5 separate regions of the Homo sapiens genome follow, and regions 1, 2, 3 and 4 are each linked to region 5. Evidence: fine-mapped expression QTL. A gene starts in region 5. Each other region holds a variant in brackets. All regions are shown on one strand. Distances are from middle to middle.

Region 1 (5,750 bases), 47 kb after region 5:
CTTGAGGGGGAAACTAGTTGTATGTTGAGGTTCCTTAAGTCTCTAGTTTTGTCACTCCAGCTCTGTGCAACCACAAAAAACTCTGTCCTTCAGCAGTGCTCCTCTGCCTGCATAAAGCCCAAATTCTCAGCCTCTAACCTGTACTCCAGGAGAAAAATGACCACAGATACTCAGCTCACCTCTGAAAGTCTCATGACTTCTGCAGCTCTCTCACACTTTCTCAATTATAAGGTTTTATTTTATGCAGCTCTTCTGATTCTCAGTGGAATTTCTTGAAGCAGAAATCTCTACCTCTTCATTTTTTGATGGTACTACCACAACATCCTATCTTTTCCCTACCCTCAAGTCCATCATCCACAGAAGTGTGAAAGTATTCTAACCCCAAATCTGATCTTGTGGGTTATCAGCTTTAACATTTTTAAATAGTTCCCCACAGACTCAGCAGTGGTTTTGCAGAGGGACCTACAGAAAAAAGAAGGGAGATGCTAATGGTTTAGCCTTTGGACCCTGACTTTAACTTGGACCCACTTATAACTTCAAACAGTGAAGCTCATTTTTATCTGATACGTATATCAGGACCCTTTGGGTTCTCAGGTTCTTTCCCCTTGTTTAAATCATGAACCAACAGAATAAAGTATCAAGTCCTTAAGACTCTTGTGGTAAATTTTAGCTTGCATCTCCAGTCTCATCTGCCATTCCCGACTCCCACCAAACTGCCTGCAGTTCTCACTGGATCCCAACCTCTCCCCACTTCCAGTATAGAATGGTGCTTCTCATTCTCAGATTTTGGTCAAATTGTACATTCCGCTCAAAATGCCCTCTTTCCCTATCCTTTAAATCTCTAATTTTTATGTCACTCCTTTTCTTAGCTGTTGAGGTAATAATAGTTCTCATCAATGTTACCATGATTCCCAGTGTGCATCTTTATGCTTGCTGGGATCTACAGTGTCTGGCACACAAGTACTTAAATAGTTGTTCACTAAACAAATGAATGAACTAGGCTTTGGAAGATACTTAGGGTTCTAATTGGCATATTTAAGTAGGGAAGGCATTAATGAAAACAGGAGAAGCCAAACAAAGGTAATAAAGTAGAAATAAGTGAGAATGGCACTGGCAGTCCATGTGCAATGAATGAGAGAAAAGATTAGGTGGAGAACATAGATCTGCTGGATATGAAATCTTGGTTCGATAGCAAGTAAGAAGTGTGTAAGTTTTTAACCAGCCAAATGATATAATGAAAGCATTTGCTTGGGGATATTCACTTAGCAGAGTATGCAATTGGAATTGGAATAGTCTATCAAGGTAGAATCCTTAAAGTCATTCTTGTGTTCTATGTACTTAACCAGTCAATGGAATCTTGCCCATTATACTTAGGCCTTTGGAGTATGAGCCATGGCACCATGTTACTTCAGAATCTCAGACCCTCTTTCCTGGATTACAGCAACAGTCTTCTCACACCCATCATTCTCTGTGCTCCTACTAAAGGGATTTTTATAAAAACAACTTAATTGTGCCTGTAACCTGCCTAAAAAGTTGTTTGGCTATATTTTCCTAACAAACTTAAATTATACATAGTCCTTTACAACCCAACCCCACTCAAATTTAAAGAGGTTTGTTTCATACCACTCCTTTTCACATATACCATGCCCTCATAAATATCTGTGACTTGCACATACTGTTTTCCTTTTCTGGAAGGCATCTCAACCTTTCCCCACTCGAAAAAACAGTTCAAATGTCACCTACTCTATGAAGCCATCCCCTGCTTTCCCAGGTAAATTTAAATGGATGATCGGGCCTTAATCGTATTTGTATGTATTATTTATTTATTTTATGGAGACGGGGGTCTCACTGTGTTGCTTAGGCTGGTCTCGAATTCCTGGGCTCAAGTGATCCTCCCCCGTGAGCCACTGCACCCAACCATATGTACTTTTAGAACTTAGCACAGTGTCTGGCACAGTATTGGCCTCTCCTAGGAACTGAGTTTTTAAAAAATTATCACTAAAAGATGAATATTACTATTGTGTTTTACAAGAAGACTAAGATAATATATAAATTAAAAAATGAGTACCACCCATGCACTCCTGCAATACTCAGATACAATCACTATTAAACCAAATTTTGTGTACTATTCTGCACTCTTACTTTTGCACGCACACTCATGCATATGTGTATGTGTAGTTCTTTAAATTCAAACCTATGTTTTTGGGTGACTGAATACTTTTTAAGAGAAAGGGTCTTGCTATGTTGCCCAAGCTAGATTCAAACTTCTGGGCTCAAGCAATCCTCCTGCTTCAGCCTCCCAAGTAACTGGGACTACAGGCATGTGCCATTGCCCTGGCTTAAGATATTATTTTAGTAAGCCACTCAGATAAATAAGAAAGCATTTATGGGGACTGGAAATAATAGAATGTGAGCAGGTGTTTAAGAAAACTACCGCTTCATGACTGATTTACCTATCCTGTATCTACGTAGAGTCATATATAACTTCAAAGCTGCAAACTGTGGATTCAGAGGTGGCAATTTTTGTTATTAACATGCTAACAAGGAAGATATCCTTCCTATTATTTATACAGTTTTCATAGCTGTACAGTAGAAATCATAGCACCTTAGAGGATTTATGAAAGGATTAGTGATAATGTATGTAAAATACTTGGCATGTAGTTTAGCAATAAATTATAATTATTACCATTTGTATTGATCAGATACTTTACCGTGGTATGAGGGCAGACACATTATATTGTCCTATTAACAGCATTATTCCTTCAATACAATCATTCTGGATTTCTTCCGATCTTTAAGTTAGCTTTCAGTAATATGAAGTCAGCTTTCAGTAACATCCAGTAATATGAATTGGGGTATTATACATTTGCATAAAATTATAGCTGTTCTTTTTGCTTGTCCTACCTCCTGCTGACTCATAGAATCAGCTTTAAAATAGACAAGCTACATTTATTTTTTGTAATGCTGCTACAGCAATGGCTTAAAATAATTCTGATATGCCCTTAATAATTAAGGCTGCATGCAGACTTTGTTCTAATTGAGAAATATTTCACAGATAATAATAATTTCGGGTAGCTGGGAACTATTAACATGCAACAGGTCTTTCTTCTAATTTCTCTATTTCTCTTTCCCTTCCTTCTTTTTGTATATTGATTTTAAAGGCAAACTCCAGTGGCATGAAAACAGACTCTATGTCAATAAAAATGGTTTGAAAGAAAAAATTATACAAGTAGTTTTCCATACATAATTTATTAAAATCTTGACTCACAGAAAAAATAAGCTAGGAGATATTCAAGGTGTAAAATTTTTTCTCATTGCTGCAATGCACTGTTATACTTTTATTCCTTTTGTGTCTTTATGCTTTGTTCCCCCAATCACAGTGTCAGCTCTTTGGGGCAGGATCAATATCTTATGCTTTTTGTGCCCCTTTCAAGTGCTTATCACAGTGCTTTGTAATTGCTTATGAGGAAATTGTCTTTAAATGTGGTGTCCATAGTATGATCTTATTTCCAGAGATATTTTACTTACAAGTTCAGAATCACATCTATTTATCCTGCTAAAACCTATTAGGTAATTGCTCCTGTTGTAGCTAAATTATTTATCTATTATAATTACAAAAGCCAAGACTGCTTTCTCTTAGCAACATTTTTTCTTCATTTGAGTGATATCTGTGCATCTAACTCCATTATTCAGCAGGGAATTATCCAGGTTTCTGGCTGCTCCTGCTGTTTATTGGCACTACCTTCTGCTTTACCAATGTGCAAGTATCAATGAACCATAATCATTACTTTCATGTGTATATATATTTCAGAATTTTACATGGTTTCCATCTCCACACACTGGCAAATGTGTCCTTCTATTGGCAAATGACACTT[C/T]TAACAGGTAGTTGTTCTCTATGGGGCTAAATTTATATATAAATAATTTGTGCAGATGCTAATCTTTTCACACTATTCATCTCTCTCTGTGTATCTATATGTCTGTCTGTCATCTATTATCTATCTATCTATATATCTGTCAGTTCACCTATCCATCCGTTTGTCCCTTCATCCATCTATCATGCTCAGTGTACTGTGCTAGGTACAATAGGGGATAAAAGAAGGCATAAGATTTAGTCTTTTCCTAATATAACTTACCATCTATTGTGGAAAAAAATATGTATACATAGAGAAAAAGATCAGAAACCAGAGTGGTACATGATGTCACAAGTAAGTGATGTGAGCTCACACACTATAGATGATCCACTAAAGATATTTTGGGCTGGAATGATGTGGCATGTTCACTGAGTCTGAGTGATCTGATACAAACGAAAAGCACAGGACAATGAATTGCAATTTTTACCTACACAACTTACTGTTGGAAGCTTATGAGTTGGGCTTTCTGAACTTCATTTTTCTCATCTGGAAATTGGGAATAATGATCATGACAATACCTTCTCTACCTTTTCCTTTGATATTTGAATCATACAGTCAAATAAAGTTATTTAAAAATTTCTGAAAATATTAAAGTGCAATCCAACTTCAGGGTGTGTTGTTTTAATTTTTCATCAACTACCACAATGTGTCTGCTCAAATATTACTAATTTAAGAAATATTAAAAGTTCAACAGGAAGAAAGGAGCAATGCTGGTTATGTAATATGTATGTTTGCATGTTAACAGGAAAAGAAAAATTTGTCAGTAGCATGAAATCTGCCAATGGTGGGAGTATTTACACCATAGAACTCAGCAAACACCACAAATTGGGGCTTTCTTTTTTGGAGAGCTATTTACCAGCATATTACTGGCCTGAACAAAAGCAACAGCAATGGGACTAGAGAGAAGGAAATACATACTAGAGGGATGAATGAGGCAGAATCAGCAATACTCATCATCAGTTGGTTAATGGCAGGTGGAGTGTCAATGGGGAGATTCTAAAATGATTTATCAAGTTATTGGCTCAGATGATTAAAGAGGAAAACATGTGCATCTTACCAAGAGAAGGACTTCAAGATGGGTGAAAGATAGTGGATTTTGTTCAGGGAATGTTGAAATTGAAGTACTTGTGGGACATGATGGTGAAAATGTACAGAAGACAGTGGTTATGTGGATACGGAACTCAAAGGAGAGGACTGGGTTCAATATGGCAGTCATGAGGCTATAACTAATAGCTGAAGTCATGGGACTAGAGAACTTTACAACAAAGGGACCCTGGGAAAGGCTGCAGTAAGTCTTCATGTTTTATAAAGTAATTATATACCATGTCTTTTTGTTAAAAGACAGTTTTAGTGGATAAAGTTATGTTTCTTTGTAAATTCTGCTTTTAGAAGTAAAATTATCACTGCAATGTAAATGAGTTTTAAGGAAGATTGGTATCTGATGAAAAATGTTATGGATTTGATTTTTAAGGTCTTTACAGCAAGATTTATACAAATGAAAGTCGAAAACAACAAAAAGTTTAATATCCAAAAGAAGTTTATGTCAAACATTTGAAAGAACAAAAACATTCTAGAACAAAAAGGGAAACAAATTATTTTAGAAATCAACTTAAATGTAACTTCTGTCTGAGCCCCATGTTGTAATTATTTGCTACTTTGCCTCACCTTTGGGGCTGGGGGCGGGGGGTGGGCTGGGGCACAACACTGTGTCTTTTATCTATGTTTAGGGCGTTGTACATAGTATATACTCAGGAAAAAAACCTGTTTATTCCATGCCAGAATGGGAGGTTTGAACAGATGACTTGGAAGGTCCCTTTCAACCCTGGGAGTCTATAAAAG
Region 2 (6,606 bases), 120 kb after region 5:
CGGCACTCCTTGGGGAGGCTCCTGCTGTGCAGGAGCCCACAGCGGGGGGTGGGGCTCAGGCATGGTGGGCTGCAGGTCCCAAGCCCTGCCCCGCGGGGAGGCAGCTGAGGCCCGGTGAGAATTTGAGAGCAGTGCCAGCACTGCTGGGGGACCCGGCACACCCTCTGCAGCTGCTGGCCCGGGTGCTAAGCCCCTCACTGCCCAGGACCTGCGGCGCTGGCCTGCTGCTCTGAGTGCGGGGCCTGCTGAGCCCAGCCCACCGGGATCTCCTGCTGGCCCACAAGCACCCCATGCAGCCCCGGTTCCTGCCTGCACCTCTCCCTCCACACCTCCCCGCAAGAAGAGGGAGTCAGCTCTGGCCTCGGCCAGCCCAGAGAGGGGCTCCCACAGTGCAGCGGCGGGCTGAAGGGCCAGAGTGGAGGCTGAGGCCGAGGAGGTGCCAAGAGCGAGCCAGGGCTGCGAGGGCTGTCAGCATGCTGTCATCTCTCAATTGTGAGGCCTCCTCAGCGACATGGAACTGTAAGTCCATTAAACCTCTTTCTTTTGTAAATTGCCCAGTCTCTGGTATGTCTTTGTCAGCAGCATGAAAATACAGATGTTGAACATTTTTTCATATGCTTGTTGGTTGCATATATGTCTTCTTTTGAAAAATGTCAGACATATTTTTTAGTTCTAGAATTTCCATTTTAAACAACAGTAACTTTTTCTCTGCTGGAGGATTTTCTTCTTTAAAAAGCAGAATTAAAATTCATTATGAACATATTTTCTTCTATGCTTCTGAGGATAGTTTTAATAAAATCCTTTTCTGCTAATTCCAACATCTGTCCAGTTTCCACTGATTGATTGTCTCTGGAATATGCATCACATTATCCTATTTCTTCACATTATTCTAATTATTCTATTTTTTTCTTTATAATTTTGGATTATCCTAGACATTCTAAATGATATTTTGGATTCTGAATTCTGTTATATTCTTCTGAACAGTGCTGAATTTGCTTACAATTAACTTTGCTGGACTCTAACTTCTAACTCAGTCTACCTTGAAGGTGAAATCTTGTTTAACTCCTTTATCCTTAGCAGGCTGTTTAGGATTTGCACTACACACGCATAGCTTAGGGGTCAGCCAGAGATTTGGGCAGAGTTTATATGCAGAATTTGTGACTCTCCTTTCTGGTTGTCTCCTTTCCTGGACTTCTCCCCTCACTTTTAGCTGCTGTGGTGGTTCCCAAACTCTGTTATTTGATATTTCAAGCCACTAAGATTATAGACTTCTATTTGAGATTTAGCCAACTAATGCCTACCCTCAAATAAAGACCCATTAAAGAATAGATAACTCACCCAGTTCCATTTCCTTCATCTAAGTACAGGTCCCCCACTCCAGCTTCTGCCTGCTTTTAGTTGCTTTCCAGTTGTTCCAGGGAATTGGTTTTTTATATTTTGCCTAGATTTTTTGTGGTTATATGTGGAGAGTTAGTTTGATGGGAGCTACTGAATCATTACTGGGAGCAAATAACCTGATTATTGTATTTATTTAGCTTCTGATCAGTCTTAGATCTTGCATGACAAACGCTTACCTTATTTTAATTCTTCAGTGTCTTAGCTATTCTTGTGTAGAAGCTGAAGTCTTATCCAGTATACTTTTCTACCTCTCAGGTCCTTCTAAATGGAAGGAACTGCAAATTAGCCATACCAAAGAGAGGATATGTGGAAGAGAGGAAAGGAAGCTAAACAGCTTCCTTTCTGTGCTGTCCATAAATCCGTACCGCCAGGGATCATAACAATTTGAGGTACCACCATAATATACATATGCATGTCTGGTGTGTTTGGAGAAGGCTGTTTAAACCAGGACTGAACATTTGAGGATAAGAAGCTTGTGGTTGGGAGAAGCAACTGGGAAGTGTGGAAATGAAGACAGAGGTGAGTTAGTAGGCTACTTACTGCAGGAATCAGGTGAGATGAGAAGCTGAGCTAAAGCAACATTAATGAGAATGTAGAAAGGGACCAGATTGGAAAGATAATTAAAAATTGATAAACCGGCCAGGTGTGGGTGGCTCATGCCTATAATCCCAGCACTTTGGGAGGCTGAGGTGAGAAGATCACTTGAGCCCAGGAGTTTGAGACTAGCCTGGGTAACATAATGAAACCCTATTTCTACAAAAAATAAAAAAATTAGTTGGGTGTAGTGGCACATGCCTGTAGTCCGAGCTACTTGGAAGGCCAAGGCAGGAGAATCACTTGAGCCCGGGAGTTCGAGTCTTCAGTGAGCTGTGACTGCGCCACTGCACTTCAGCCAGGGTGAAAGAGAGAGACCTTGTCTCAAAAAACAAAACAAAATGAAAAAACAAGAAAAACTTGATAACCCCTGTGTACAGATTGAAAGAGATACTTATAAGGATAAGAAACATTTTCTCCCATCACTCAAATCACAGCAGGTGTCAACATCTTACTTCGCTGACACATGTAATAATATAGAAAGTCTAGAAAATAGAAAAAAATTATCAAAAATTCCACTATCTTTATATAACTAAAAATGTTTTATCTTCCAGGCCTTATTTAGAAACAAATGTATATGTTTTATAGCTACAACCACACACAAGTTTGAAGGTCTTCGATACATCATAATTTTGCATTATTTCTATCATCTCGCATGAATGAGCAATTTTCATCATGCTGATATCTGTAATTATGTCCTTTTAAATGTCTTACATAGTATTCCATCATTTCATACACCCCAAACTTTTAAACTATTATTCAACTTGTTGTACATTTATATTATTACAACTATAAATAATGTACCACAAACATGTTTATGTATATAGTCTTTCTCTTCTATGGGGGGTATCTCTTTAGCTGTAAGATATCCATGGTGAAAAGTAGAAACATTTAATATTGTTTTATGTATATTGATATTTAGTCACAAGAGCTCTGACATTGTAAAGCCCCAGAGTGATATGTGTGAGAATCTTTGAATTTCAGATAATTACTGAGAGAAAGGACTTTGCTTTGTAGCTCCAGGAGCTAGTACTGTGGCTAGGCATATTAGACCAGTAATAGCTGTGTTTTGAATATGTAAATCAATGATTAAATGAATGATTAATTCACTTGTCTTGTGATGAGAGTTTTAAGATGTTTCTTGCCATCTGGATGCAGTATGATTTCAAGTGTCCCCTCTGATACTGGCAAGGTCTGGAGAGCCATTAAGACAAAGAGTTTACTCCTGTGAGCTGGGTTCTACGGAAGTCTGGAATGCTGCCCTGAGAACACAATCTGCAACAGTATCTGTCTGAGATTTTTGGTTTTGTTTCCTCCACCACTATAAACCCAAGCATTTCCA[T/C]GGGCTCCCTTCTGAAAAAGGGAAGGTGATATTTCCTGGCTGAAGGAGACTTTCCCATTAATGTTTTACCTCAGTGTAGCAAGCACGCTAAGCTTGGGTCAGAATGTTTGAATGTTTTGGCTCTGTTCTCTTGTGGACTTCAGAAAACAACTAAGTTCATTCTCAACTTAAACTGGATCACTGTTTTTGTTTTGTAATGATTTTTCTTGTAAAGGGAGAAAAATAATTTTGGTTCAGATCAAATTGTAAAAAAAAGTTTAAGATTTAGCTGATCAGAATAAGGCTTTTGAGATGGAGATTTTATATCAATATCATTTGTGTTTTTACTAGCACTAGTAATTACTATTTATAGCACTCTGTGCCTGTCCCTGCTCTAGTACATTTTTTTTTTACATTATTTAACTTACTTTAGTCATCTCAGCAATCCTATGAAGTAGATATTACTTTCATTTTGTAATTATCGGGAAAATGATGCTTACAGAACTTAACTCACCTGCCCATAAGCACACAGAATTGGTAACAGTCAGAATTGAAAACTAGATCTGTCTGATATCAATATGCTCACACATCCATTTGATTTTTGTTTGTTTATTTATTTATTTATTTTGAGACAGGGTCTCATTCTGTCACCCAGGCTGGAACGCAGTGGTACAATCTTGGCTCACTGAAGGCTCACAGCAACTTCCGCCGCCCAGGTTCAAGCAATTCTCCCACCTCTGCCTTCCAAGTAGCTAGGATTACAGGTGCATGCCACTCACTATGCTAGGCTAACTTTTTTTTTTTTTTTTTTTTTGGTAGAGATGGAGTTTAACCATGTTGGCCAGGCTGGTCTCGAACTCCAGACCTCAGGTGATCCGCTCACCTCAGCCTTGCAAAGTGCTGGGATTACAGGCATGAGCCACTCACACATCCATTTGAAAAGCACTTTCACATAAATTTTATTTTCTCATTCACAGTTGCAATACTGGGAAGAGGGCTGTGCTTAGTCCTGCCTGGCATAGGTAAAGACAGAGATTTACAGATTATGTGTTTTGCCATCCAAGGTCACACTGGAGAGAGTTATCAGAGTCAGGGCATAAATGAAAACCTTCTGGTCTTCATCCCGTACCCTTTCCACTCTTCTCACGGACTCCCTAGAGATTTTCTCTCTCAATCTCTCACTTTATGTTTGAGCAAATGGAAGCCCAGAATATTGCAATGATTCATCAAGGTCATACAACTAGTTAGCAAACTGATGCTAGAGGCTGGATTTTTTGCCTCCCGAGCTAGCGTCTTTTCTGTTAGGTCTATGTAGCAAACAAAACCTGATTGTTAAGGAATGTTCAATGTGAGTTACAATCCAAGCCAGGGAAGACATTAATATAGGCCATCCAGTACAGAGCCCTTCACTCATCATTTTCATTTTTAACAAATGTCCTCCCTCATTTGAGATACCCAGTTGATGTGCTCATCATCAAGTATGCACTGAAATGATGAGTATGAATGTGTCCTGCACTGGGGACCAGCCCCGAGTGGGTCCCCCATTGTCAGTATATGGAGAGTCTCAGGAATAGCAACTCTCCCTTCCTCAGTGTAGACCTCGAAACAGCCAAAGTAAATAGAATTTTCCACCTCAACAGCTGTATTTATTTTGGGCTGTTTCTCCACCTACAACGCCCATTTGCTGTTCTCAGAGCTTCTGAACCTGTTTATTTTCAACCTCCCAGAGGCAGCCAGCTGTTGTATTCCCATTTCAAGGCAAAAAGAAGTCAACATGTTCTTCTGGAGGGAAGCAACCCATTTTAAGATCTTAAAGGATATCACCCAAAGGAGAGTTTACCAGCTGTGGATATTTCCTGAGCAAGACACTATTCCTGCTCTCAAATATCTTATTCAAGTGGCTTAACAGATGTAATTGGAGACAGAGCTTGAGCGCTGAAAATTACATAGTAATATAAAAGAGCTAGGGAGCAATATGAGCTCGAGATTTAAGTGATGTCAAGTGAATGTGATTGAGCAGAGCCTCCCCATCAGTAGGCTGGATTAAGCCTATAGGAATATTTTGTTTGGGATCCAAGTTTGTTTGTGTATGTGTTTGTTTTTCAGTGAGCCAATATTTAAAAATTGAGAGACTTTACCTAAAAGTCTGATTTCTGGCTTCGTTTGAAATACCAGAAGATCTGTCAATACGTGTTTGTCCTTATTGGGGCACCAGTGGGCTGGTGTGGTGGGTGTGTTAGATAAAACACACCCTCCTCAGTTTGCCATAAGTACTCCCTATTTTCTTTCCAATGTTGAGGCCAACTCTTAGTTGCCTTGTACCTTCACAGTTGCAGTGTTGTTTTACTTATTCTCATTCACTTCAGTTTTGTGCTGGACCCCATGGGCATGTGAGTATTTCAACCCTTTTGGGGTCATTAGTGCCTTAAGGGCTGGTATGGATGTCGCCTTTGTTGAATGCCCATTATAATATAATAAGCACTGTACTAGACATGTACCTCATTTACTACTCACAGAAAACCCTACCAGGCAGACATTATCATTCTCACTTTGCAAATGGGAAAAATGAGACTCAGCAAGGGTTTGATATCAGCTAGAAGTCATCCAGTTCACGAATAGCTAGGATTCAAATGCTAGCTGGCTAATTTCCTCCTTCATAGATACTGCCTCCCAGAGAACTAGGAAGTGACAAAGTTGAGTCTTGAACTCCAGCCTAGTGAACATTCTAAAAAGTCATACTCTATCACAGGCACACATTTTGCTGTGTGCAAAGAGATAGCTAGCAAATACCTCATGATGAATCCAGAGGACCTAGAAGAAAAAAACCACTTCCACTAGGAAATGACTCAATAACCAATAATAACTTCTGAAAAGAATACACTGTAATTGTCCTTAAATTGTAGGTAGACAAACCCATCACCAAGGAGTTGGCATGTGCTTCTGGGATAGATTGAAAATTTTGGCAACAACAGGGTATTGAACTATTAGAAAATACCATTTGGGTATTTCGATGAGAAGAATGGAATCTGTGAAGATGCTAAACAAAGACCATAAATTCCATACGGTTTGGGCAGATAAAGAAGTAGTAAAACCTATATTCTAAATTCTAAGCCAACCATTCCTGGGCAGTGACCACTGGAAGCTGGACCTCAAAGCCTGAAGCCTGGATGTCAAAACCTATCACTTCCCATACAGCTCATTCTAGGTAGCAGAAATACAAAATATTTAAATGTCAGTTATTCTGTTTTATATTTTGAAAAAGAGTTTTGGAAAGTTACACAGCTTGAATTTAA
Region 3 (6,606 bases), 100 kb after region 5:
GCTTATTTTACTCAGGATAATGTCTTCAAAAGTTCATCCATATTGTAGCACATACGAGAAGATGACTTTTTAAAAAGTTTTTAATTAAAACATAACATAAAAAGTGAAAAGTGCATAACTTGCTCACAACCTGAACACATCAGGGTAAGTAGTGTCTACATAAGAAATGGAAAGTTACTAGAAGGGCAGAAGACCTCCCCATACTCCACTCCTAACCCCCGAGAATAATCTCTATCCTGACTTCTAACAGCGTAATTTTGCCTAGTTTTTAACTTTACGTAAATTAAAGCATACAGTATTTTTTTTCTATTTGCTTTTTTTGCTCAATATAATGTTTGTGGTATTCATCCATATTGTTGTGTGTAGTTATATTTCTTTCATTCTCATTGCTATACAGTATGTTATCATGTAAATATGCCACAATTTATATATCATTATATTGTTGATGGAGACTCAGGCAGTTTCTGGTTTTTTGTTAATATCAATAGTCTTGCTATGGCTAGGCATGGTGGCTCACACTTGTAATCTCAGCACTTTGGGAGGCGGAGGTGGGTGGTTCACTTGAGGCCAGGAGTTTGAGACCAGCCTGGGCAATATAGGGAGACCCTGTATCTACAAAAAATTAAAAAATTGGCCAGGTGGGCCAGGCATGGTGGCTCACACCTGTGATCCCAGCACTTTAGGAGGCTGAGGTGGGCGGATCACAAGGTCAAGAGATCAAGACCATCCTGGCCAACATGGTGAAACCCTGTCTCTACTGAAAATACAAAAATTAGCTGGGTGTGGTGGTGGGCGCCTATAGTCCCAGCTACTAGGGAGGCTGAGGCAGGAGAATCTCTTGAACCCTGGAGGAGGAGGTTGCACTGAGCCAAGATTGCGCCACTGCACTCCAGCCTGGCAACAGAGTGAGACTCCATCTCAAAAAAAAAAAAAAAATTAGCCAGTTGTGGTGGTGCACAGCTGTAGTCCTAACTACTTGGGAGACTGAAGCAGGAGGATTGCTTGAGCCCAAGAGTTTGAGACTGCAGCAAGCTGTGATTGTGCCACTGTGCTCCAGCCTGGGCAACAGAGGAAGACTCTGTCTCTATAAATAAATAAATAAATAAATAAATAGTACTGCTATGAACATTCCTGTACATGCCTTTTGGTAAACATATGAATGGATTTCTATTATATATATTATGTATATGCTATATGAATATATCATATAAATGTATATATGCATATATATATATTCAGAATTAAAAATGCTGGGTCACAGAGTATGCCTATATTAAGCTTTAATAGCTTTTCAATGTGGTTTACCATTTAGAAAGGGTCATTTAAGCTGTGGCCTGAAAAACGAAATGGAATGGAAGCTGCATTGAGATTTCCACACTAACATCTCCCTACTGCTATGACAAAAATGTGACCTTTTATAAAGTGGTTAGAGTCAAATGGGAGAAGTCCTTTGCCTCTTTTTTGCTGTGGTCTCCCAGTACACTTTAGTGTGAGGAGCCTCTGTCATTTTGGTCAGACCCAGGGAGTCAAGAGATGATGACTGATGACTCAGCCTCCTCAGCTCGGCTTCCCAGAGCTCCACTCACCACATCAGTGAGCCTGGCATGCAGGGGGAGACATAAACACAACCATGGTGTTGATATCAATCCTAGCAGAGATGTCACAAGCCAAGGTCTGGGAAGAGGAAGAATGAATCAGGATAAAACTTCAGTGGAAAAAAGACCAAGTGAGAGACTTAAAAGTCACGACTAAAGAATTGTGTAAGTAACAGTGGCAAATGACAACAAAAGGCCTCTACAGCTAAAATAATCAGTGGTACCTGTTTCAGATCCCCAGGCTTCTCTGTTTTTGGGAGGTCTTAGGATGCAGGGCTTTGCCAATTGTGTGGCCTGGGATGACAGCCAATTGATGGAAGCTGGAATTCAGGGCTTTCTTCTCAACAGAAGTTAAAGAAGGCAAAAAAAAAAAAAAAAACCCAAACAAAAAATCTGGCCACAAGTGATGTCTATCAGTGTTGTGTGGGTGTGAGAGCCTGCCCCTTTGTCTTAATAGAGAATAGAAACATACCTGAGGAGGAGCCCCAAAGGCCTGATAGGAATGGGTCATTTTGAGAAAAAGTTTCCAATGGGAAAGATAAAAATCTAGTTGTTTTGCCCTTCAATGTTTTAGAGTTTCCTCAGAGCACAGAGAAATCTTAGTTTGCTTCTCCTTAAGGTACTGCTCATAAAGTCCCGTCTTTTAAAGAAAAGGAACAGAGTGAAAAATGATTGATGCATCAAAGTGAAGTTTCCTTTTCCAAACATGTGTCCGTAAGTTGCTGATCTGGGGTCCCTTCAGAATTGCATGCTGTGTCTTTAACCCATTTCCTGTTTGGAAAAAAATGTGGCTCACTGCCAGCACAGTGTTCTTGGGGCAAACGGGAAGTGGCTTTAGGTAGCCAGACAGGTATGCAACAAACTACCTTTCATAACAATGCCTCAGGCCAGAAGGGATTGGGTCTCATGCCAAAAATATCTTTTGATTATCTTTCTTTAGTACGTACAAAAATTGAGACTTAAAAAGTATTTCAGGGCCACCATTTTAAATTTCAGTCGAATGTTCATGTTACTGATTAGAGTTGTGTCTGTAAAAAGTATTAAAGATTGAAGTGTGTTTCTATTCTGTAACAGTTGCATATGTGTGTATTCTAACAGAATTTCTTGTATGAAATAATTGTCTTTCATTTATTTGTTTCTCTTAAGAGTTCTCAAGGAAAATACAAGTTAAATTAGTTAAGAAAATTCTGATTGGTTGGGTTTCACCTACCTGCAATATTGATTTCTCT[A/C]TATATATGGATAAAAGAAGTCAATTTAAATATGTTGACCCATGTGGTCCAGTTTATATGACATTCAAATAAACACAACTTTGAACACCAAGACTAATTGGAAAATAATTCAAATATTTACCAGGGACTCTTGAAGAATGTCAGAAGAATATCTAGCAGACATCCTAACAATTATTTCTGCATCTTTCTTTCTATTTCCCATCACTCTGAAGTTTTTTTTCAAAGACTTGCTCAACTCACAAAATCTCTTTCTCATCCCTGCATTGCACTCAGGGTTCTGGTCTTTTTCCTCCCTCTCTCCCAACAAAACACAAAAATAAATAAATTTGTCTCTTTATAAGATTGAAAAAAAAAATCCCAGTCTGTATCTTATCTTCCAGTTATCAGATCTTTCTACCCATTGGCCTGATTAGCTTCACAGAGTCCTGGAGACAAGCTAGCAGTCACAGAGAGGGAAGATTGTGAACCCTTATACATTCATGCTTATGGTCCCAGTTGCACAATAATTTTAAATACAATTCATACAACAGGCTATTTCCCAGTCACTAAATGACAAAACTTTCTTTGCAATAAGAGGCAAGGCCAACAGTGACCAAAATTCACATTTTTGAAGACTGGAGAAAGGCATGAGGGAAGAGGTGAAATGTGGTATAAAATGAATAACATCTTTGAGCAGAGGCGGCATTCTGCCTTAGACCCTCCTCTTCCCCTCCTCTCATGACATCACACGTGCCGATGCTTTTCCCTAGAAGCCCTATTTCTTGAAATCTGAGACCATAACCCAACAAATCATTCCCTTGAAAGTTTACTTACTTTTTGATGGTTATTTGATATGAAGAAGAAATCGAAAAGAGAGCAGAACTTCAAGGTTGAATTTGGCCATTTCCATGCTAATTCATATTGGTGCCTGAGAGTGTCCTCATTAGGATCTCATTTCTCTGTTAATGTCAAACAGTATCTGATCTCTGCCTATCCAAGGGCTGGTATGGGCTTAATGCCAGCATTTAATGCTGGAATCTAAAGCTGGGACAGGTAAGGTGCTTCGCCTGCAGCATCCAAAGATCAGAGCAGGCAGAGAGGAAGTCTAGGAGCATACACAGTAAAAACGTATAAATAATATGATTTGATAAGATACAAGCACAATAAAAAGTTAGAAAAGAAAAATACTAAATACACGTTAAATGTATACATGCTGAAGAGATTGCCAGATAAGAGTGTTTACATAGCGTAGTGGAACAAGTGAAGAAATGTTTCCTTAGAGAATAATATATTAAGAAAATGTCCATGTCACCTGTATTGGTTCAGAAAGAGTTATTTTTGAAAGCACCTGGTTGTCTTAGGATTAAACTGCCTAGCCCTTAGGGAAGGAGACAAGGGCCTGTTCATTCATTCATTAACTCATAATATATTAAAATTGTGCTTGCTATATACTAAGCACAGTATTAGGCACTAGAAATAGGGTATGGACTATGACCAACATGTTGCTTATCCTCTTGGAGCTTACAATATAACAGGGAAGATAGACCTTGGAAAGGTTATTACTCATTCAGACAATGAATGTGTGCAAAGACAGTGATGATGGAGAAATGCATGGTGCTATTGAAGGCATTATGGAAGAATATGACCAAAAAAGAGGACAGGGTCGCTTTCTTATCAGTGAATATCAGCTGAGCAATTCAGGTGCCACTGCTTCCACCTCTGGGCATGGGCTTTCTCCCTTGCTTGGAAAGAATACATTAACATCAGATTAAGCAAAGAGCTCATAAAATGCATGATGGCACACTGACCAATCAAAACATACCAAGCATTCTTTTCCAGAGGATTGGGAAAGAGATTCATTTTGAAATAATTAGCTGGCAATAGGTTCAACATGAAAAAAATAAACATTAAGCCATAATTATTTTTCAACAGAACTGGAGACTTATTCATCTACTTTCTGAAATTGTATATCTATTTCATAGCACTGGAAGCTCAATACTATGTTTAATGTTCTGAGGGTAAAAACACGATGTCTGTTTTATTTCACAACATGAATTGAAAGCGTTTGTGGGACAGGATGTTGTTTTGGTTCAATAGGTTGTTCAAGATTCCTTAGGAGTTTTATCCAGTAACTGCTTTCAGCTTTAAGAAATTAATGTTTCCATTTGGTTTTCAGATCCAAAAACTGCATAAGCAGATTTTTCTGTTTTTGATGCCTTATCCAATTGCTAGTGTGGTTTAAGGTAATCAATCATATAACTGAGAGTTAAAGAACTCTGGCTAAGAGTTTTTACACAAATAAAACTTGCATTGGTTTGATTGTGGATGGTGCTTGTTCAAGGACTGTAGGAATAGGTTGTAGTCAAACCTCAGAAATGTTCCAGATTTGCAGCCCATGCACTGGTTGGGAAGGCCATACCTTATGGTTCAGGTAAGATACAGGCAGGGCTCGTGCTAGGAAATGAGAATACCTGATGGGAACAATAAAGTTACTGATTCTCTTGGCTGCCCAGCAAGTCTCTACCTGTCCCTCATGAATCTTTCTGCCAAATTCCAGAAGGAAAAACTCTCTTTCTCTGGGATATCCAGGGAAGATGGAGGTTCCTTTCCAGCCTTCCTTTCATCACAAATTTACTAGTCATATACTGTGGCAGGCACTAACAGCACAAAGACATAAGATTATAATCCCAAAGAGCTCACTGTCTAATAAAGGAAAATTAGCATAAATAAAATACTTGCAATGCAGTATAAGTACAATGCTAGGAACATTCATGTTATATTTTCAACCAGGAGACAATGCAATTAGCAGTATCAGGATTCAGGAGAGAGAAGTGTGGCAAAGAATACTGCATAGAAGTGAACAACAAAGTGGGGAAGGGAAGGAAACCCTTCCCCAGGGTTTGTATTTAGGAATACAATGAAATTAGTCAAGGTGGTCACAGCCTATCTTCTTTCAGGACCCTTTTCCCCTTCATAGGTCTATCATGCCTATCTTCCAGTGCTCAATACTTTCCTGTTGCCCTCTAGAGGCCCAGAGTTCACCACTCTGGAGTCCTATCTACCTTGATCTGCCCTTACTCGGACCAGTATTGTCACCTGTTCTGATCTTTCTCCAAAATTTTATGCTGACTCACTGTATTAGTTTCCTTTTGTTGTGGTAACAATTACCATTAATGTAGGGCTTAAAACAGCACAATTTTTTTATCTCATTGTTTTGAAGGTCAGAAGTCTGAAATTATATCATTGGGATAAAAACCACGGTGTCGGCACAGCTGCATTCCTTTCTGGAAACTCAAGGGGAATCTATTTTCTTGTCTTTTCTAGCTCCTAGAGGCTGCCCACATTCTTTGGCTTGTGGCCCCCTCCCATCTTCAAAGCCAGCGATAGCCAGTCAAGTCCTTCTCACATTGTGTCCCCCTAGCTTTGCTTTTGCCATCACATTTTACCCTGACTCTTACACTCCCACTTCCTCTTTCACCAAGCACCCTGTGATGACATTGGGCCCAGCTGGATAATCCCGGATACTCTCTCTCTCTCTCTTTTACAGTCAGCTCATTAATAACCTCAATTCCATCTGCAACCTTAATTCTCACAGTTTCTGGGGATTAGAATGTGGTCATCTCTGGGGGTGACTGTTATTCTGCCTACTGCACCCACCTTCAATTCTACTATCAATCAAAATTTACTTGTATGTTCTTCAATGACTCCTCATTAGCTAAAAAGTGAACCTAATAATTGAACCCAAACAGAAGGTGTTAAACGGAAATATGTAGGACCTGTCCCTACTTATTCTCCTGTCCCTG
Region 4 (6,487 bases), 64 kb after region 5:
CCTAAATATATTTTAAGACGAAACATTTGTTCTATAGCTTTTCCCTTTTTTTAAGTAAGGAATTTTATTTTTTTCTGAATTATTTTCTCTCGTGAGTATATTGATCCAGAAAGAAAACTTGTATTATGTGTGTTTTAAAATGAGAAATCTAAAAAACGAAAAGTCTCCAAAGTCTCTGGAATTTGAAACACTTTGCATAACGTATAAAAGCCTGTTTAAGAGACAGCCAACTATGGCCTGTGGATCAAATCCAGCCTGCTGCCTGCTTTTTATGGCCTGTGAGCTAGGAATTGTGTTTATAATTTTAAATGTTTTTTTTTAAAGACTTTTATGATACTTGAAAATTAACATGAATATTTAGTGTTCATAAATAAAGTTTGTTGAAACACAACCAAGATCATTCTTTTACTTGTCTATGGCTGCTTTTCTGTGGCAGAGTAGCTGCCACAGAAACTATAGCCCACAAAGCCTGATATTTACTGTCTGTCTGTTTATGGAAAAAATTTATCAACCCATGGTCTATAGTATAGTGTGATATGACTACTGTTCCAATGTATTGAAGTGTTGGGATAGTTTTTTCAAATGTTTTCAGATGTTCTTGTTTTAGAATCATTGTCACCTTTAAGAGGAAAAAGGTCATCACTAGATAATCTAAACAAATTGTTGCTTCTCAGTGTTAGCAAGGAAAATAATCTAGTTTCAAATTACATTGCAGTATAATGAAAAAGATCCATATACTGTGGAATGATATTCTTTTAAAATTATTTGCTATGGCTTGGTAAAAATGTACTTTTTCCAGTAGCACATATCACAAGAACCTCACTGTAGTTGAAAGCCATCTTTCTTTAGTATTTGTTTATCCTTTTAGGAGAGTCAAGCAAAGGTTTTCACCACCTGTTTGAGCAGAATAATTCTCATCAGTTCACAGATATAGGATAACTCAATTTATATGCACTTTATGCGTTATGCAAAATATTTAGAAATTGTAGATTCTAGATCTCCAGAAAGACTTTGAAGACTTTGATGTCACAAAAAGATGACTTGTTATATGCTGAGCTTGACAAAGGTAGGAATGGGAGAGAAAAATAGTAGCTTATGAGGAAATATGAGGCTTTAAATATATAAAGTTGGATATTTTAAAATAACTTTTCCCTGTGGGAGCTTCTCACTCTGGGTGCAGACAGGACAGTGTTGGCCATTGGTGAAATAGATAGGATGGGTTTGAGGCCAGAGCAGTCTGGGAGTAGGGGGAAAGAGAAGGAGGTGTGCTAGTGTCTATCACAGGCTTTCTCAATTAGGTTTGCAGGAGAAAAAGCCCTAAGTCCCTGTGTCATCTAGAATGGTACTAATTATGTACAGTCCCTAGGAGAATGGAGAAAATCATAACTCAAATCATCGACTCAATTCTGTTCTCTTCAGATGAGCTCAGAGAGCACATAGGAGTGTTTGTAATGAGGGGTATGTAATGATTGAGATAGAGGAATGAGTTACATAAACATCTCGGGACAAATGCAGCATAGAAAACATCTTTGTAGTTACCCTGCGGGGAAATTTCCTCTGAGTTCTTTTAACATTAACTACCCGTATTATTTTATACTTAACATTCATATCATACCTTCCCAAATATATTGGGAAGTTCAGTGTTAAGTACGTTTCTCAAGTACTTAACAACTTAATATAGGGAGGAAAGGTGTAAACAGTGAAAAAAGAGCAAAACTATTTTATGGTAATTTTATGGTAGTATCAGCTTGTATTTGGTTCTCTGTTTCTAAAATAATGTAATTTTTAATATTTTAAATAATAGGATAACCTGGTTTCCAAGCCTTTTTTTCCCCCGACATCCAGAATACACACTGGATCCAAGCCTTTCTTAAACATCAGTACATGTGGAAGACTGGCATGCCATATACCAAATGCCATTCAGCTGTAACAGTATACACAGATTTTCTCTTATAAAGAATAAGAACATCATAACCAATGACCACTCATATAAAGTCTTATTTGTGTGTGTGTGTGTGTGTGTGTGCACGTGTGTGTGTTAGAGTCTCATTATATTGCTCAGGCTGGAGGGCATGGTGTGATCTTGGCTCACTGCAGCCTTGA[C/T]CTCCTGGGCTCAAGTGATCCTTCCGAGTCGTTGGGACTACAGTAGGTGAACACCACCATGCCTGGCTAATTTTTGTATTTTTTTTTTAATCAAGATGGGATCTTGCTATGTTGCCCAGGCTGGTCTCAAACTCCTGGCATCAAGCGTTCCTCCTTCCTTGGCCTCCTTAAGTGCTGGGATTATAGGTGTGAGCCACCATGCTTGACCATAAAGCCTTACTATTTCTTTTGGAGACACAGTCTTGCTCTGTCCAAGCTGGAATGCAGTGATGTGATCATGGCTCACTGCAGCCTTGAACTCCCAGGCTTAAGAGATCCTCCCATCTCAGCCTCCTGAGTAGCTGGGATTATAGGTGCAGACCATCAAGCCTTGCTATTATTTTTTAGACTTTTCTTAATTTCATCCAACAAAGTAGTTGCTGTAGGAGCTGAGTGTTAGAAGGAAAGATGCTGAAGAAATGAAATCAAGCAGGGTGTATACTGTCATGAATAGGCATACAGTAGTTTTTATACTTTTGTTCTTTGGAGTACCAATGTTAGGTTTTACAAAAGTAATTTGATGAGGGGAAGGAGGGTTGTGTATTTATTTTACTTTCTGATGTTTGCTTAAATAATACTGTGTACGTATTCAGCTTGCTGTAATTCTGTAATTACGCTATTGCGTTTGGCTAACTCCTTTTTGGAAATGTCTTTTTTTTTGTACAAGGCATGTGTTAGTTTTTACTAATTGCTCTGAATGTGTATATTTAGATTTCTGAATTGAAAAAAAATAGCGTACAATAAGTAGATTTAAAGTAATTAGAACACTTTATTGATTTTTCTGATGTTTTCTGTATCTAAAATTTATCACCACCAGGTTGTGCTAAAACAGCAGGAAGTTTTTATATTGTGAGTGACAGTACCCATTATTTCTCTTAATTTTACTAACATTTACTATAAGAATATTCTCTCGCTCTTTTCTCCACTCACAGCCATTCTCCCTCCTTCTCTTCATAACATCAAGCTGTCACAGACAAATCTGAAAATGTTACAAGCACAGACTATGTTGTATGTTTTGAAATTTTAGAACAGTAATGTTCTTTTTAAAATTGAACTTCTGCAGAGTAAGAAAATGAATACATTTATTACTTTAAATTTGTAAAATTTTCCAAAGTAAAACCATACAAAGCTAGTGTCAGTCTCTCTCATTGTTCACAAATAAAGGACTTTTGTTAATTGATTAAATCACTTACTATATTCGATATGAAATATATAAAACATACAACCATTATCTAATACATTTCAGAATGTTTCACTGGTTACAGGAGCCAGTAAATAAAGTTGACTCTAAACAGGAATTTTAAATAAACTAAACATTTTTTCATCACCAAGCATCATTTATATATTGGTTTCTGATTTACATATGTGATGTCTAAGAAAATCTCTGACTTTATTCTTTTTTGCCTGTATTAATTTAAAATTTATCCCATTTCGTCTCCCCCTTCCCACAAATCAGGTATACAATGGGGGAAGAGGGAAAGGAGTACATAGTTTTGACACAGTGACCTTTTATTATATAGGTTACCAACTGCTAGCCTTCATATTTTTAGAAAGGGCAGTTTTGATTAGACCCATCTATGAGGTTCTGTTTTTTTTTTTACTGGAAATTTCATGCGTTAAATGTTGGGTAGGATTAAGTGATGAGACGACGGGTCCAAATGTATTAATCACTGGGAAGTGTTGAAGTATTACCGACCATCTTACTCATTTCTTTATTTTTTCCTCTCAGTCACCAGTCAGAACAGGTCATCAGTAGTTGTGTAACTAAGATGAACAGGAACTTTGGTGTCAGGGGATACTTAGTGATGCCAGTAGTTTTTCCAAGCTTGAATTTATACTGTGACTATCAGGCAATATTTAGATGGGGGTAATGGAAACTTTTTTAAAGTATAGGAATTTTCTCCTTATGCTGACATAAGTAACATCTGATGCTGTAGAAGCTTAGTATCAAATATTAATTGGACTGAAATAGTTCAGAATATTTTCCCAAAATGATTTCCTCCCACTCAGTTTTTACTTTTGCAGAGCTTCTACTTACCATTTGTAGTAACCTGAATGACAATAAAATGGTGAAAAAAAGATTTGAAATGGTGAAACCGCCTTCTTCCAGATATCATTCAGGTGACTAAAATGCAAAACCAAGTACAATAGACAAATAATAGCAACACTAGAAAACAAGAAATACTACCGTCAATAGAGCAGCAATTTCTAGGTATTTTTGGAAGACAGGAGGGACATAGGGATTGACAGGTGTTTGTTGGTGTCAGTGTGAGCAAACCACGTAAGCTGAGTGAAGCAGAAATGGAGAGGTCTCACCAATTCTGAGTAGTGAGGGCTAGTAACAAAGATTAACCCTAAGGTGGGTGGACATGGGTGTGTGGTGGCTGGTTCCTGTAGTCGCAGCTACTCAGGAGGCTGAGATGGGAGGATCACTTGACCTAGGAGTTCAAGTCAAGCCTGGGCAACATGGCAGGACCCTATCTTTAAAAAAAAAAAAAAAAAAAAAAAGGCCCTTAAGGTGGTTGGAGAGAAATTACAGGGTGCATGGGGCAGGAGAGGGGTAGGTATCAGTAGACGTAAGGTTTGCTTTTTTCTCCCCAGTGAATATTTTACTCAAAACTGAGGAAAGTAGAGTGATACGCTACTGCAGAATAGGTTTTTTGTTTTTTTTTTCAAGCCGGGTGCTGTGATTCTTGACTATGGCTGAGTAGAATCAACCGTCAGTGCATGCAGATAGCTGGGCCAGAATCTGGAGGGTGGAACTGGCCATTTAAAAAAGTTCTTTAGATTTAATAATGTGGAGCTATCATTGGTGGGAGTAGTATTATAACTCAGAGCTTCCTAACTTCCTAAGCTGGCAGTTCAGTAGTGGCTGATAATGAGTGAATCATGTATATGGCAATCTTACACTTGTTATTGTATGTCTTTTTTATAGCCATCCTAGTGGGTTTGAAGTATCTCGTGATTTTGATGTGTTTACATTCTGACTAATGATGTTGAGCATTTTTTTATGTACTTCTTGGCCACTTGTATTTCTTTGGAAAATTATCTATTCCAGTTCTTTGCCCATTTTGAAATGGGTTATCTCATTTATTACAGTTTCAGGAGTTCTGTATATATAATAGACATAAAGCCACTATAAAATAAATTAATTACAAATATTTTCTCCCATTCCAGGAATTGTTTTTTCACTTTATTGATGGTATCAGTTGCAGCACAATAATTTTAATTTTGATGGGGTCCAGTTTATCTATTTCATTTTGTTGCTTGTGCTTTTGGTGTCATATCCAAGAGACCATTGCAAAATTGAAGATTATGAAGATTTACCCCCAGTATTTTCTTCTGTTTTATAGTTTTAGCTCTTGCATGTAGGTCTATCCATTTTGAGTTAATTTTTGTGTATGATGTGAGATAGGTGTCTAGCTTCATTCTTTCACCTGTGGATATCTGTTTTCCTAGCACCATTTGTTGAAAAGATTATTTTTTCTCTGTTGAATTGTCTTGACACCCTGGTGAAAAATCGATTGACCACAGATCTATGGGTTTATATCTGAAGTCTCAATTCTATTACATTGATTTATATGTCGTCTTTATGCCAGTATGACATTGTCTTGACTACTGTAATTTGTTATAAATTTTATAATAGGAAATCTGAGATCTCCAACTTTGATTTTTTTGAAGATTGTTTTAACTACTCTGGATCTCTTTCATATTCATCTGAATTTTAGGATCAGCTTGTCAATTTCTGTAAAGAAACCAGCTGGGTTTTGATAGGGATATATTGGATCTGTAATTAAAGTTGGTGCTTTTGTATATTAGTTTCTAGTATTCTGTGTCATCAGTGGCATCTTCATATTAACTTGCTTATGGCAGATTATAAATTTGTTCTCTACATAATTTTGGAGCATGATTGTGGGCTAACCTGCCAGTGAGAGTGGCTGCTGTGCAGCTGACAGTCTTCTATATTTGTGGAAAGGCAGGAGAAACAGCACGTTCAATTGCCTCGTGTTAGGATGGACAGAATTCGGTTAATTCAAGAGATATTTGAGAAGTTGAATCCACAGGACTTGATAATTGATGGAGTGTGAGAGATAAGGTAGAGAAAGATAGAAAAGGTTATGCTTAAGTTTCTTTGGGCAGCCAAGATGGGGAATGTTGAAGAAGGAGCTGAATTCCTTCAATTTGATCATTTCTCTACCTAGACCTATAGATTTCTGGTCCCTCTAGGTTATTGTATCCAGGGCTCTAAAGGCAGAACAAGGCTAGGATTTAGGATGCAGGCATGCATACAAAAATATGTTAAAGCTGGAAGGGTTGATAGAGTTACTACATTAGGCATAGCCAA
Region 5 (6,606 bases):
TACCTTCAAGCATGCAGAGATCACATTTGGAAAAATCACAGGCCCTCTTTTAGTTCCTATCTCATGCCCCTTCCTCCCCAGCATTTTCCAAAGTGTGATAAGCACTGCTTGACTCCATTTAATTTACCCATTTATCTTTCACTATGTCTTATTTACCCATCACCCTTCTTAAACACTATCCTTGAAGGTAGCACCTCACTAATTCTGATATCCATTTCCTGTTCCTTATTCCCTTAGATCCCTGTTGCAAAATACATCTTTTTGAAGCTATTTTCCTACCTAAAGCTCTCACTTTTCTTTGCTGCCACTACACAAAACACTCTTGGTATTCCACTTACTTTCCCACCCATGACCCATCTTTTTCCTCATAGGTCTTCACTGTTGCTGCTCCCCAAAGCCCATTTTCTAGTGCCTTCTCTTTTCTCTGTCTTCCCCTTTCCTCTTTGGGAAGCAATTTGTATCTTACGGTTTCAAAATCATTCTCTCACATGATTGCTCTCATATCCATATTCTCAGCCCCATATCTCTACCTACCACTAGGGAAGTTCCACTTGAATACCACATACATTTCATATATGTGTATGTCTTAAGCTCGGTTTACCATTCTCCCCTCCAAAAGCTTATCAATGTTAACACCTTTAACTCAATCCACCACTCATAAATTTAGAGTTCATATTTACTCTTCTATTTTTCTACTTCTGTATGTAATTGCAACAAAGTTCCATGGCTTTTTTTTTTTTTTTTCTCAAAAAGTTCTTCTTTGGGTTTCTAGTGCTATCAACCTTGTACAGGCAGGCCCTTATTATTTTGGTCCTAAATACTGCAATAGTAATTGAACTTGTTTCCCTTTCCTGATTCTGTCCTCATTCCATGTCCCTCCACTAGACTAATTGTCTATTTAATGCATCACTGTCACAATAATACTCTCCTGATACACAACCTCTTGTTGCATTTAAGCTCAATTTCATGTTTCTAAGACTAACAGTCAATGTCCTTCACTATCTGATCTCAACCATTGGACTTAGTTGTATTTCCTTGCTTGGCCTCCATGTTGAGCATTTCATACTTATGTCCATTCCACATGCATTTCCTTACGATTGGAAGTTCTTCACCTATTCTTTTGCTTTTCCAAATGCGTCTTGCATTCAAGTTCTATTGTCTCTACAAAGTTTCCCTTACTCTCCGTCCATGGCAATGCCCTTTTGAACATCTTTAGCCCTTATCCTCTGCACCATTTGTTTTGCTTTAAGGAAATTTTCCTGAAATTTGTTGTTGCTGTTGTCTGCATGACTGACTGACTGACTGAATGAATGAATATCTTGCATTGCTACTTATTTGTTTTATGCATTTATCTTCCTACCATGAAGATTTTAAGTTTATGGAAGGTAAGACCAAATATAATCTTTCTTTTGCATATATTTTACCACCTAGTGCAGTATAATATCCCAAACAGAGATAATTCAGAGGGCAAGGATTATTTATTGACAGTGTGGCCTGATGCCTAGAAATCTGCATTTTTAACAAGTCTTGTACCCTCCTCCCCACCCCATAGGATTTTGATGTTCTGCTTGTGAGTAGGGATCTTGTCTATTTTCTTTATCATGTGTCTTCAGTGCCTGGCATATAGTAAGCATTAAGTAACATTTTTGAATTAGTTATGCAGTTGATCACAAACTATGTTTTGAAACTACATCCTGGGAGAAAGAGTAGGAGATTAAATAACACACTGAACTACTATATGTTGCACATGTATTTGCATGTTGCAAAAATGTGTGTGAAATGTTTTGAAAAGCTTAAAGCAATTTTTTTTTTTTGAGATGGAGTCTCACTCTGTCACCCAGGCGGGAGTGCAATGGCTCCATCTCGGCTCAGTAAAACTGCTGCCTCCCAGGTTCTAGCGATTTTCCTGCCTCAGCCTCCCAAGTAGCTAGGATTACAGACATGTGCCAACACGCCTGGCTAATTTTTGAATTTTTGGTAGAGAAGGAGTTTCACCATGTTGACCAGGCTGGTCTCGAACTTCTGACCTCAGGTGATCCACCTGCCTTGGCCTCCAAAAGTGCTGGAATTACACGCGTGAGCCACTGTGCCCAGCCCATTTAAAGCAATCTTAAAGTGTAAACTATTATTGCAAGATACCAACGTAGATTTTTTTAATAAGTGTTAATTTCTCTTTTGTTGGGAGGTAAACTGCCCTAGGAAAGACAAAAATAATCTTGTAAGCTTACTTTTTAGGTTTCTTTCTATTTATAAAGAAGAGAAAAAAATCACCATTTTTTGTGCAAATCATAGACCTTTGAGTTAGAAGGGCACCAAAAGTTTCAGCTCTATTCCCTTTAAACAAATACAACATTTATTGCATTAGTTATGGGTGAGGAAATTGAGGCTTAGAAGGATTTGAAGATTTGCTCAAGGTGGAGATTCTCAAAAGTGTCCTCAGATACCTGCATCCTAACTTCCTGGGAAGTTTGTTCTAAAGTTTAGACTCCAGAGCTTCACCCAAAACTTACTGCTAAATTAAATCCTTTAAAGGAAATCTGCATTTTTAGGATCTCCTCTTATGCCTTCCAGCATAGTGCTTCTCAAACCCTAATGTTCATCTGAATCACCTAGGAGTCTTATTAAACTGCAAAGTGTGATGTAGCATGTCTGGAGTGGGGCTCAAGATTCTGTTTTTGTTTGTTTGTTTTTGTTTTTCAACTTTTATTTTAGATTTAGAGGCCACATATGCAAGTTTGCTACCTGGGTATGCTGTGTGATGCTGACATTTGTGGTATGAATGATTTTATCACCCAGGTACTGACAATAGTACCCAACAGTTTTTCAACCTTTGCTCCCTCGGTCCCCTCTCTAGTAGTCCACAGTGTCTATTTGTTGCCATCTTTATATCCCTGAGTGATATGGTTTGGCTGTGTCCCCACCCAAATCTCATCTTGGCCAAGAAGCCAAGTTTTAATGGGTACACAAGTGCATAGGAATTGGAGAGTGGGGAGCGTGAGTTGACTATTGGTCAGGGACTGTCAACGGAAGGGAAGGAACCAATGATGGGAGTGAGAGCCCAGAACTCGGTGTTCGAAGTGGGTAATTTATGGGAGGGGCATACCTACGAGCAGACAATGCACTCAGACAAGGAAGATTTGCACATTGGACAGAAGAGACACCTTTTTCCTCTGCAATAAGAACCAAGGAGGTAAGTAGGGGGTCTGATATGAGTTTGTGCATGTGTGCAGGGTGAGTGAGACAATCCATATATTTGAGAAAAGACAGTGAAATCTTTAAAGGTAAAAATAATAAAACCAGCTGTGGCACCTATTGGATAAGGAATTACTAACTGATGATTTAGAAATTCCTTTATGTGCGTTAGGAGCTCATTTGTTATCCCCATTTTACAGATGCGCAGCCCCAGGTTCAGCAATTTGCTCTAAATGAGACTGTAGAGGCTAATTCCAGCCCCCGGCAGCTCTCACCTTAAGCTGCCTGGCTGAGGTCAGCAGTAAGTTACCTGGCAGCGTCCGGGGGCCTGCAGCCGAGGACAGGGCTGGAACTACACTTCCCAGTGTGCCAGGCGGGGCGGGGCGCGGCGGGGAGGGCGCAGGCTCCTTCCCAGAAGCAAAAGCGGAAACAAAAGAGTCTCGCCGGCGTCCCCGCCCGCACACTCGCGCACACTCGCGCTCGGGCGCACACGGAGCAGGGACCGGCGCCCGGAGCGAGCCAGGGAGCGGCTAACCGGGGACCCACCGCGCGGAGCCAGCCTAGCTGCCAGCGAGCCCAACCCGCGACGACCCACGCCCCTGAGCCCCGCAGCCGACCCCTGCCGGCCGGTGTCCCCACCGCCATCCCTGACCCATGGCGCTGAAGAGGATTCAGAAAGTGAGTGCCGGGGCCGGGCCTGGGGCTGCGGGGCAGCGGCCCCCTGCCCACGCTGACTCGGCCAGTGGTCCCGAGAGACATGCGGGGAGAGCAAGGGATGGAAGGGTGGGCCGGGGTGCGGGCAGGGAGCTGAAGGCTCGGGCCGGGCCAGCGGGCATCGGACAGGTGAGGTGGGAGCAGGGTCAGGTCCCAGGCGGCCGGAGGAGCTTGAAGGCTGGGGGCCCGCGCGCGTTCGCGCCGGAGCCGCTCCCGGAGCCCCAGGGTAGAGAGCCTCTTGCGCGTCCAGACCGTCCCGAAATCTGTGCTTCACGGTCACGGCCGGGTTTTGCCCTCCATGGGGCTAGTTTTGACCCCTGTCATGCTGTGTTTTCTCCAGGCTGTTTCTTAAGCCTGTCCTCTTTTATGTTCTTGCTTACCCGGCCTCCCCGGGAGGGCAAGGAAGGTGGGGTGGGCCTGCAGCCTTTCTCCGCGGAGCTGTCGGGTTGGTTCTTTCTCTCCTCTGCGGTTGGCTCTTGCTCAGTTGCCCGAATGGGCTGGAAAGCCCATTTGCGGCCAAGAAGTCAGGAGAAGGCTCCTGCCCCTTCTATTTTGGTGCCTCTGCTGCTGCCACTTCAGGTCACATAGCTGTAGCGAAAACATAGTTGCTGATACACAACAAGATGACCTCCTGGCTGTGATTCACGGTGAGTCAAGCCAAACAGGTTTTTTTCCCCCTCATGATAAACTTAGATGTAAAGTTCGAGACACAACATAAACTGTCGCAAATAAATTGTTTTGATGCTTTGACACATGGGTATAGAATGAGGAAGAAATATATATCTTCATCCAACAACTGTTTACCCATCTCAACCCTGTGTATGGAATCGTCTTTTTTTCACAGTATTTATTGCCACCATTTCAGATGCGAACATCCTTCAGAATTCAGATTCGGGCATTTCTTTCTGTTCATTTTTATTTCTTGTTGGTCTGTGTACTGACCCAAGTTTTAGGTTTTACAGTTACAGTTCACACTGGCAACATTGAGAATGTGTTTGTTAAATAGGGAGTGCTTTTCACTAAGTTAAGCAACAATGGACAGTGTATTTTGTAGTTGTTTCAGAAGAAATTGATGCCCACATTTTTATCCACTTTTTTGACCAGGAGTCCATTATAGCAATAGTATATGTTAGAGCAGTGATAGTGACGTACGCATTGCATTCTGACTCGCCACTGGTGACATCTTTAGGTACAGAGGACAGCAACTTTTAGAGCCTGCCAGTTTTTTATTTTCAAATTCTAAATCTGTGGATCACCTGTTATTTTTTGTGCCATTTAAAGGTCATCTCATTGTAAAACATACAGTTAACAATCAGCATCAGCATTTATTAAGTAATAATGTTTTCTTGTTTGAAGGTAGCGCAATTACACATTGTTTTATATAAATACCCTAATTTTGAAGCCTTAGCATCTTTACCATACCTTGCATACTTATTAATGACGAAGTAATATTGGTTCACATTTGGATCAGAAAATGCACATCTTCCAAGGAAGTTTTCAAATTCTATTTCCTTCTTTCCTAGTTGTGAGAATTTTTCACATGATTTTGCACATACAAGAGCTTTTTAAATTTCATTGTGTTTTTTTAAGAGATGGGGATCTCACTATATTGCCCATGCTGATCTTGAACTCCTGGCCTCCAGAAAGTCTGGGATTACAGACACAAGTCACCATACCCAACTAACAATAGCTTAAGCTGTATAATTTGTCCACAGTAAGTGGATATTCAAAGAAATATGAACATTATTTGTAAATACCACCCTTGGCAGTTCTCATCAATCACCATGCTGAACTAGTGTATTTGATTTATATTTATAATATGGCGTGTGTCCAAATCTTTTTAGTATTTATTGGTTATTAGTTTATAGAATTGTTGAGTAAAAAAAAAAATTACTTACATAGAATTGATATCAAACATGTGACAAATTGATATTTTGGAAAAGAAATTGGGGATGACACACCATCACATCTCTGTGTGTTCATTTTTGGCTTCCCTTTCTGATATCAGGAAAATCGACTTACACAAATCTTCTTTCCATTAATCACACATTCAGACCAATCCCTCAAACCTTAGGGGTGATTATTTTGATTGATTCCCTACTTTTCCTCCTCCTTTACCTACCTCCTTGATTAGAAGCCAATTCTAGGTTAGATGTGCCGCCTGCCGTATGAACAGTTACACCATCTTCTTTGATGTCATCAGTATAGAATTCTTATTTGAATCTTTCATGTTCCAACAAATGAAGATGTATACTAACTTTTGGCCTTTCTTCTTAAGCTCACTGAAGTATTAATATAATTTTCCTGTACCTATAGATGGTGGCAGGCCATAGAGTTGTGTGGAACCTCAGATAAGTCTGCTGTAGTGTAGTAGAGGGTACAAGCAGGGGAACAGCTTCTAAGGCAGTGTCTTAGAATCACCTGTGGGACGTTTTCAGACTGTCATCACTTCTATAAATGGAGAGATGTTGAATCCCTCAGATCGGTTGGGGTGGAAAGAAGACTGAGGACCACTGATGTTCTGGCCTGTCCTTATTCAAGGAAGGATCCAGAGGCCTGGAGTGGAGGAGTGCTTTGTCCAAAGATAATCTCTTTTTTTTTTTGAGATGGAGTCTTGCTATGTTTCCCAGGCTGGAGTGCAGTGGCATGATCTCGGCTCACTGCAACCTCTGCCTCCTGGGTTCAAGCAATTCTCCTGCC

Evidence for each region.
Region 1: its variant is fine-mapped to the expression of UBE2D1 in whole blood (INTERVAL, PIP above 0.99).
Region 2: its variant is fine-mapped to the expression of UBE2D1 in whole blood (INTERVAL, PIP above 0.99).
Region 3: its variant is fine-mapped to the expression of UBE2D1 in whole blood (INTERVAL, PIP 0.93).
Region 4: its variant is fine-mapped to the expression of UBE2D1 in whole blood (TOPMed, PIP above 0.99).

What each region holds. Positions count from the first base shown.
Region 1 is chr10:58,378,481-58,384,230 of GRCh38, forward strand. No RefSeq gene overlaps it. Among named protein-coding and RNA genes, the nearest start is that of TFAM, 4.1 kb to the right of the region's middle. The variant C/T (reference allele first, on the strand shown) is at 3,876.
Region 2 is chr10:58,448,318-58,454,923 of GRCh38, forward strand. The region is part of intron 1 of LOC105378316 (a long non-coding RNA gene); the gene reads left to right. Among named protein-coding and RNA genes, the nearest start is that of BICC1, 61 kb to the right of the region's middle. The variant T/C (reference allele first, on the strand shown) is at 3,335.
Region 3 is chr10:58,433,898-58,440,503 of GRCh38, forward strand. LOC105378316 (a long non-coding RNA gene) reads left to right here and starts at 29. Exons shown (of 5, transcript XR_945984.3): 1 at 29-144. The variant A/C (reference allele first, on the strand shown) is at 2,825.
Region 4 is chr10:58,395,748-58,402,234 of GRCh38, forward strand. TFAM (transcription factor A, mitochondrial) reads left to right here. Exons shown (of 7, transcript NM_003201.3): 7 at 1-3,473. Among named protein-coding and RNA genes, the nearest start is that of TFAM, 14 kb to the left of the region's middle. The variant C/T (reference allele first, on the strand shown) is at 2,104.
Region 5 is chr10:58,331,356-58,337,961 of GRCh38, forward strand. UBE2D1 (ubiquitin conjugating enzyme E2 D1) reads left to right here and starts at 3,651. Exons shown (of 7, transcript NM_003338.5): 1 at 3,651-3,870. The coding sequence starts at 3,847. RefSeq lists enhancers at 3,315-3,815, 3,414-3,708 and a silencer at 3,516-4,035.